Regions from separate parts of the Homo sapiens genome. Here region 1 is linked to region 2. Evidence: fine-mapped expression QTL. A gene starts in region 2. The other region holds a variant in brackets. All regions are shown on one strand. Distances are between the middles of the regions.

Region 1 (4,413 bases), 60 kb after region 2:
CCGGGACAACTTCATGCCTACCCTGAAGAGTATGCTGACGTAAGTTGTATAGGTTACCATGAGGTTTCCCCTCGAATCCTTGGTTTCTCTTGTGTCTTTTTACAGGCCTCTTCCCTGCAGTCTATTCCTTATTTGTTGCTATTACTCAGAGTTGCTACCTTGGCCCTCTGCTTCTCTAGTCCTCCACCGTCTTCCTGGGCATTCTCATCCTCTCTCATGGCTTTATTGACCCCCTAGGTGCTGAAGACTCCTAAATCTGTGTCTTCAGCTCCGCTTTCACTACTGAGAGTGACTATATCTGAATTCTACCCACTTGGATAATCAGTAAGCACCACAATATGAACAATTCCATGAACTCAAAATCTAAGCCAGAAACTGCATGTAATGTTTGACTCACTTTTCCTGTCACCTGTTCCCCCACCCTCACCTATGTCGAGTCATTGTGCAAGTCGAGTCCATTCTTTCTCTTAAGCATCTCTCTCACCTGGTTCCACCTTCATCATCCATCACCTGAATAACTGCAATGTCTTCCTAACTGAGCTACCTGTATCCAGGATGGACTCCTCCAATTCATTCTCCACATAACTGTCAGAATGATCTTTCTACGAAAGAAATCTGGTCATGCCTCTTTCTGCTTAAAACCCTTCATTGGTTTTCCATCACTTTTGGAATAAACTACAAACTTCATACAGTTTCAAATCCCTGAATCATCTAGTCTTACTAAATCTTCAACCCCTTCTCTCTGAACTCACCCCTGGCATTCTATAGTCCAAATATTTGAGCTTTTTCTAATTTCTAAAAAACGTCATGCTCTCTCACACCTCAGGGAGATTCCCACAAGCTGTTTCATCTGATGAAAATCTTTTCTCATCTCCAGTCTTACCCCACCCAACTTCCTTGCCCACTCACCTTTGCTGGCCATCTCAGCAGCAAGCTTATAAAGATTTATTTCCTTTAAGGAAAAAAATGATAAGATAGATGCCCCTGATATATGCTTCTCGCACACTCGGTGCTTCGTCTGTTGCAGCACTTATTTATCATACTGTACTGTGGTTGCTTTTTAATCATCTGTCTTTTTCAATAGAGTTTAAACTCCCCAGGAGGGTGGGAACTTAGTTCCTAAAAGGATGCATAGCACAGAGTATATATGCAATAAATTATTGTTAAAATATTGGGCACATTTTGATCCATAGTGACAGACAACCTTACATATAAGACACAGATTATCATAGGCGTTAATCTACAAACTGCATTTAAATGTGTTTTTATTCTATTTTTCTCTTTTATCACCATTATGAGAAAAAAATGGTTAGTTTAAGGCTTATACAAAGATAAAGTTCCTTTTCCTTCATCTTTCTGTCTCTCTATCTATAGATATATGTATATTCTGTTTTCCTATCTGAACTTGGTGCCAAACATATTGAGCTGGTATCTTGTTACATGTCTGTCCTTTCACAGTTCTTCCATATAGCTACTAGAAATAATCACTACAGTTTAGAACACACTGTGCAACCCTCAAGTAAATTACATTTGAGACAAGAAAACTGAGAAACTGCATGAAGGTTAAGATTTTCGGGATAGGTAAAAATAGCAAGAGCTGAAAACAGAATCCAATTACACAGGTATTTAATCCTTCAATCTTTAAAACTCAATAAATAAAGCATTGCTTTTTTTGAGGCATGTTATTTAGGATGAAAAGTGAATGTTTATTTCAGATGATCAAGTGACAAAAACTAACTTCTATATTTTTCAAGTCGATAAAAACTTATAGAAAGTGAAATAGGATTTTAAGGATATTTTTCCATTGACCTCTCTTTCTGTTAGTAACAAAAAAAAAAAAACTTCCATTGATGATAGGATGCCTTCAGTTGATTAAGCCATGAAAAGATTACCACTTTGTTTATAATCATCCATATGTATTTAATGTGTACAGTAACATCTTGTGATTTTAAGAATAAATTTTCCATCTATAACTAAAAAATAAAA[G/T]TTTTCCTCTTGTTATACAGAGTTCTAGTTAAAGAGAATGTTGCTTTATTTTATGTTATTTTTATAATGGTTGGTTTACTCATAATAGTGATACTCAGATACAATTATTTTGAAATTTGCAATGGTTATATCTACACAGTTCAAAATGCAAAAGGGTTTGGAAAAAATAAATGATTCATCCATGCAAGATATAAAATAGCATAGCTATAAAATAAGAATATGACTTAAATGAGCAATTCTGTGATTTGGCAATTTGATCAAAGTAGAAAAGCTTCAAAATTATCAAATATCCAATCATATTTGTCTTTATAAGAATACAATGAAACCTAATTTTATTTTACCTTTTACTGTATATATATTTAAAATATACAACATGATGTTTTGATATACTTACCTTAATATACATATGCATAGTGAAGTGTTTACTACAATCAAGCAAATTAACAAACCAAGTATCTCATATAGTTACTTTTTTCTTTCTCTCCCCTCCTACATTTCCTTCCTTCCTTCCTTCCTTCCTTCCTTCCTTCCTTCCTTCCTTCTTCCTTCCTTTCCTCCTTTATTTCATGGTAAGAGTACCTAAAATCTACTCTCTTAGCAAAGTACCAGTGTGAATACATTATTAACTATAGACCTCCTGTTGTACATTAGTTCTCTAGATTTACTTAACCTACATAATGCAACTTTGTACTTTGACCTATATCATCCCATTCCCCCTGCCCTTACCCCATCCCTAGTAACCACTGTTCCACTCTCTGTGAAACCCAATATTAAACATAGCTTTGCTTCAGTTTTTATACATGAATGATAATCCCCAAATTAGTCATAGAAATTATTAACTAGCAATTCAAAGGCGAAGTGGCTCATGCCTGTAATCCCAGCACTTTGGGAGGCCGAGGCAGGCAGATCACAAGGTCAAGAGATCGAGACCTTCCTGGCCAACATGGTGAAACCTCGTCTCTACTCAAAAAAAAAAAAAAAAATACTAAAAGTAGCCTGACGTGGTGGCATGCGCCTGTGATCCCAGCTACTCGGGAGGCTGAGGCAGGAGAATCACTTGAACCCAGGAGGTGGAGGTTGCAGTGAGCCGAGATTGCGCCACTGCATTCCAGCCTGGCAACAGAGCGAGTCTCTGTCTCAAGAAAAAAAAAAAAAAGAAAGAAATACGTTGATAATAATTTTAAGTTGGACAATCATGGCAAGTAATTAAATGTACAATATATAAAGAAATATTTTACAAGTTTACCTTTATATTCCAATATCTTCTCTAGAAATGAAAATCTGTTACATGTGCTCTGGCTGACTAATGCAAGTTACAAAGCAGATTTAGTAAGTCACTGTCAATGTTAGCGACCTATGTGGAAAAAAAAAGAAAACGTTTCTGTGAAGTAAAAAGAGAACTAAATATTTCAAATAGTGGTAAGCAGCTAATTCTATTCTAATTCCAGTGCCTCTCAGAACCATCTTTAAAGTGAATGCTCTCAAAATTTCCTGTCATCATCATTCAAATTGTTAACGTTTGAATAATTTTCTCATGCTCACCTCAATTATTTCCCCTACTTCTACTTGTAAGGAAATTGGTCATAAGACTTTATTTGGAGACTCTGATGAGAATACTTTTGTGATATCTTATGTAGAAAAATGAAATATTAGTGTTTTAAAATGACTAACACCTAAATTATTCAAATCCTATTTAAAGGAATCTATAGATCAAAATGACATAAAAATATATTATTGGAAAAGGATTAAATGCACATTGAATAATTACATCATTAGTTTTCCAACATTGCCTAAAACATCTAATAATTATTTCTAATCTGTAAAAGTTATGTTAAAAGTATGTTTACAATCAGTTCTCTACTCAAAAGAAGATACACTTTTTTAAAAAACTAGAATTACTGGAATAAATATTGCTGTTTAAACTGATGTCATCCCCAAAGAAAACCCATCCATTAAGTGAACCAACTTATTTTTCTGGAGCAAATTGGCAAATTCAAACTCCAAGAAGGCAGAAAAAATTGTACCAGTGATTGAAAAATCACTACTGATAAGATGATGCAATAGTTCTTTGGCTCTCATATAAAATGGTTGTGTGGTAGGATAAAATATGTCTTATAAGAGAAACTAAGTTCATAAAAATTGAGAATACTAATGAAAAGCAGACTCTTGAGGTTTCAAATAATCTGCTTTTTCTGCTCTTCTTTTACTGTGCTTGGAAGTGGCAGCAGAAATTATGAAATATAAGCAGAAAGGTAGTTTGGAAGATTTCCAACCTGAATCATGAGATAATTACTAGTTGAGAGTTCTTTTTGAATAAATCAACATAATCCATCTTGTGTTTTCTTTGTCATTTCTACCACTATTTCCACAGAGAATATCTTATACCAGGTTCTTATTGGCATCCCCTAAAATGAGCCATTTTAGGGG
Region 2 (4,413 bases):
CCATGCAAACTCTATATTAACATTTTTTAGATTATTTTACATTTAAGTTGCATTTTAAGTAGTTCTTCAAGTAAGAATTTAGCTTTAAAAGGACTTCAAATACCTTTTAACACAATCTCTCCTCTAGTGCCATAGCAAAAGGCCTGGTGTGGAGTAGACTATAGTATCTACTCAACAAATATTTGCTATGTGAATAAATAAAGTTGCAAAATACTAAACATTCAAAAGACATGTAGGTAGTTATTATGATAAATAGAGTTATGCTTCATTCTTTAAGAATACAGAGAGGTGAGTTTAAACCCAATGTGGAGAACAGTAAATCTACAAAGGCTTCCTAGAAGCAATGATACTTAACTGAATCTTAATGGACACACAGGAGTTGGCCTCATAAAAAACAAGAAGCTTAAAGGGTCTAGATAGCCCATTTACAATATTGTCTCTGATCAACCTATTCAAAATAGGGCAATTAGTTAATGAGAACCATTTTATTGGTATTTATACCAAACACATATATGAAATTTCACTTTATCACCTATTATTCTAAGTGGAATCAAATTATTCCAAGTAGATAGATATTCTTAGTGATTCTGGTTGAAAATGTGTATGTTGAAGCCTTTTGAAAAATCTGGCTGAAAGAAAAATAATAGCTATCTTTTATTGAGTGATTCCGTGCTGGCCTTGTAATGAGCTCTTTTCAGGAATTGAGTAATCTAAACCTCACAAGAAGAAAGTTCTCCTACTGCCCAAACTGATAAACTTGGTAAGTAGCAGAGCTAGAGCTTGAACTCAAGGTTGCCAAGTGCATGTTCTTAATTATTACATTATGTGAAGTTTTGTATTAACTCCTCACTAAAAATACTGTCTTGTCTTGCTTTCCTTTTATATAATTTGAAGATATATTCAAAGAAATAACTTCATTAATGATATCAATTTAGATTTTATTTCTGGAGACTTTTGTAAACTGTTACATAAAATGTAATTTATAAATTTCCCTTCGACACTACACGGATAAACTCATCACAAGATTTCTTGCTAGTCAGCACTGTTCTCCACTAAAAGTGCTTTCACATCCACATCTTTGCTTTTTCCCCTAGTGAATATAGAAAACTACTTCAATAATGCATATTCCTTTCTATATTCCTTCAACAGAATGTTGCCTATTTAAATCATTAAGATGGATTCCTAGTACAGAATCAAAATTTAAAAAATAAAAACTTCAATTGTAAATACCTGGAATCATAGTCGATGTCTAAATATATTAAGTACATCCAAAAACATATTTACAAATCTAGTATTCATCACATAATGCCTCTCAAGAAAGCAGAGATCTCAAGCAGTTTCATTTTCACACTTCCTTCATAAAAGTATTCGAATGCATGAAGGCCATCTGGCTATGTTACTACCTCCCCTTTAACATTAACTAATGTGGCAATCAGGCTAGTGTCCCACTGTTCCCTGACCACTAGCCAATATCAACCCTCTGAACATTACCCACTTCATGCTTTTTTCAAGTCCTTATCTTTACATACATTTCTACTGTTGACAACAAGCCATAATGTTGACTACCATTAGGTTTCTACTAATGTTTTCCAGTCATATTCTTCCAAGTCAGAGAATGTAACTGGCTCCACCAGGAAATAAAATAGAGGTCATTGAAGCAGCAGTGACTTCCAAGCTGTTTGCTAAATTTAGCAGCACAATACTTTCCACTCTAATGAAAACTGTGAACTGCAATTTTAGAATGTTGGAACAGGATGGGACTTTAAAGGTCATTGAGTCCAATCCCCTCATTTTTCTGATGGAAGTGTGGAGGCCTAGACGTAGCCAGTAATTTTCTGGAGGCCACAGAGCTTGTTAATTATGAAGATGGAACTCGAACTAAGATCTGCTCAGCCCTGCAGTAATGCTGCCCTCACTACACCACAGATGCTCTGCCTCCTAGGATGAGTTTAAACTAACCAGATCTTATAGCATAAACATAGCTGATATTATTGGTTGTGGCTTACCCTCCATGGCCATTCAACTGTTTCGTGGCTGAATGTGAAATAGCAAAGGTATCTGACTTATAAGTTGCTGAGAGAAATGATTCCATACCTAAACCCTGCCCCCAACTCTAAAAACTTCCTGCTTGATGTTCATCAATAATGAATGGCCCATCCCTGCAATACTCAGAGGGAGCTTACATTGCACTTTTGAGCAGCCGGTTAGTAATGTACAGTGGATAGAGCCTTTCTTTCAAATCCCAGGGCAGTGGGTCCTTCAAGGCTAGCATTGCATTTTCAATTAGCTGCTGAGTGAATGCTTGGCATGTGTATTAGTGAAGAGGCACACAATTAGCGTATTGTTCCTTTCTGTATTGTGCTGAGAGGATCCAAGGGATTGGTGGGGGAACAGGCAAGCCAGGCATCACCGTGGATGTTGAAGAAGGGGGTTACTCAAACCTCGGCATCTTCACTTGCTCGATCTGGAATTACAGCTATTTATTACGAAGCACTCTGTGTGGCTTAGTGGAGTGTGTCTGAGGAAACACATCCCGGACACCACTTAGGGTTAGTCTTTCTGAGCTCTTCACATCTCTGACTAATTATCATCATTACCATGGAGCCCAACAGTCCCAAAAAGATACAGTTTGCCGTGCCTGTATTCCAGAGTCAGATTGCACCTGAAGCAGCAGAGCAGGTATGTGAAATTGCATGGAGAACCATTCCTGTACATAAGGTAATATGAACATGCATTCTGGTTATTAATTGAAAGGTTCTTTACCTTTTGATTTTGCTAACTCTGACTTTCAAGATAATGTAAACAAGAAATAAGTTGGTTTTTACACATACTTGTATTTAAATTGCATTGGGAGAACTATTGTCTAAAATGTAACACTTCATTTGATACAAAATTAGCACCTCTGAGGGGAAAATGGCTCTGTAAGCAATTCAGATATGGATTCATAAATCTGTTCATTTTTGCTCATTAAAATAACAGTTTCAACATTTAGAGCAACTTTTAAAAATTATCAAAATGAGCAACATTTTATTTCATTTTTTATAAAATAAAATGATTGATTTAGCAATAAAATCATTAAATCCTGCAATAGTTTGAGACTATAGGCCTAATACTTTATTTTCATATGTTTTATTATTGTGGACACAAAACAATGATTATAAGTTTATATAATATATTACAGCTAGGATTTGTAGCTTTTTGTACAGTTTTAAAATCGTTTTGTTCAGACATTACAAACAGTGTTTTAACATTTCCTAGATTCTTTGTCCATGTCTAATATTGGTTTACATCTGTATCACCTTTCATATTCAGATTTACTTAGATTCTTGATGCAATGGCATCTCTTAGAACTGCAACTGTGAGGAGGCAAAAGCAAAGAAATTTATGAGGACATCAACCTAATCCATTCATTTCTTAAAACTTAAATTATTCTTGAATCCTTTTCCAAGTATTTGATATAAAGTCTTAAAAATAATTATTTAATCCGTGACTCATAGTGTTTCAGGATGTTTTGAAATCTGAGGTAGATGCACCTAGACTCAGGCCAGATAAATGTATCCTTGAACATGTGTCTATCCATGCTGAATGGGATGTTGCTTCTATCTTGGACAGGATGTCATTGATAAATTTTATTATCTATCCTACTGACACTTACTTTGGGTATTTACCCATAAATGAATATAATAAACAAATAAAGGATATTATATTCAAGGGATTCTGACAATACTATGCTCCTGTAACTCTTAAAATGAAAAAAAAAAACTTTAGAGTTTGTAATAAGTTGCATATTCTCATAAGATCCATATTTATTCTTCATTTGTTTATTTGTTCTAAATATTATACTAGAAAATAAAAAAGTTAACAAAATTAATTGAAATTCAAAGCTTATGCTGTTGATTTAACTCTGGTACCTGCTAGAAATAGGTTTCCAAGCTCTTCCTTATCCTGTTTAAAAATAAGGGTAATGAATCTTGAAAGCACCACCAATGTTATGAGGCTCCAAGCAAGCCACTAACATTATCAGGTCAACCCTGTACCTTCATTGTAAATTAATTTTCTGTTGTATCATTCAGTTGTATATAATTATTTCTTTTCCGTGGAAATGTAGCTTTTTGGTCAAAGAGGGTGATACTTCTATCAGACAGTTCAATTCTGTGGCTTTCTATTATTTCAAAATAAAATTAGTGAGCACCTTCCATGTGTCCTCCAGAAATTTGCTTTTGCATGTGGGGAAAAGATGAGGGTGAGACAGCTTTGCAAGCTGCAGAGTAACCTGGAGCAGTGTCTAATACTCACTGATATTAGCTGGGCTTTTGTCGTTCACAGATCAGGAAAAGAAGACCTACACCAGCATCACTTGTGATTCTCAATGAGCATAACCCCCCAGGTAAAGAAGCATGATGTGTTTCACAC

Which allele goes with the higher level. Alleles are on the strand shown, and positions count from the first base shown. SD is a standard deviation of normalised expression in the study named.
For the expression in thyroid of the gene that starts at base 2,341 in region 2, allele T in region 1 goes with a higher level than allele G (moderate effect, 0.61 SD a copy in GTEx).

What was found. PIP is the estimated chance that this variant, and not a neighbour inherited with it, causes the effect.
Region 1: its variant is fine-mapped to the expression of PPP1R1C in thyroid (GTEx, PIP 0.91).

The regions. Positions count from the first base shown.
Region 1 is chr2:182,043,613-182,048,025 of GRCh38, forward strand. All of the region lies in intron 2 of PPP1R1C (protein phosphatase 1 regulatory inhibitor subunit 1C), which reads left to right. Among named protein-coding and RNA genes, the nearest start is that of PPP1R1C, 60 kb to the left of the region's middle. The variant G/T (reference allele first, on the strand shown) is at 1,987.
Region 2 is chr2:181,983,513-181,987,925 of GRCh38, forward strand. PPP1R1C (protein phosphatase 1 regulatory inhibitor subunit 1C) reads left to right here and starts at 2,341. Exons shown (of 5, transcript NM_001080545.3): 1 at 2,341-2,679; 2 at 4,327-4,387. The coding sequence starts at 2,599.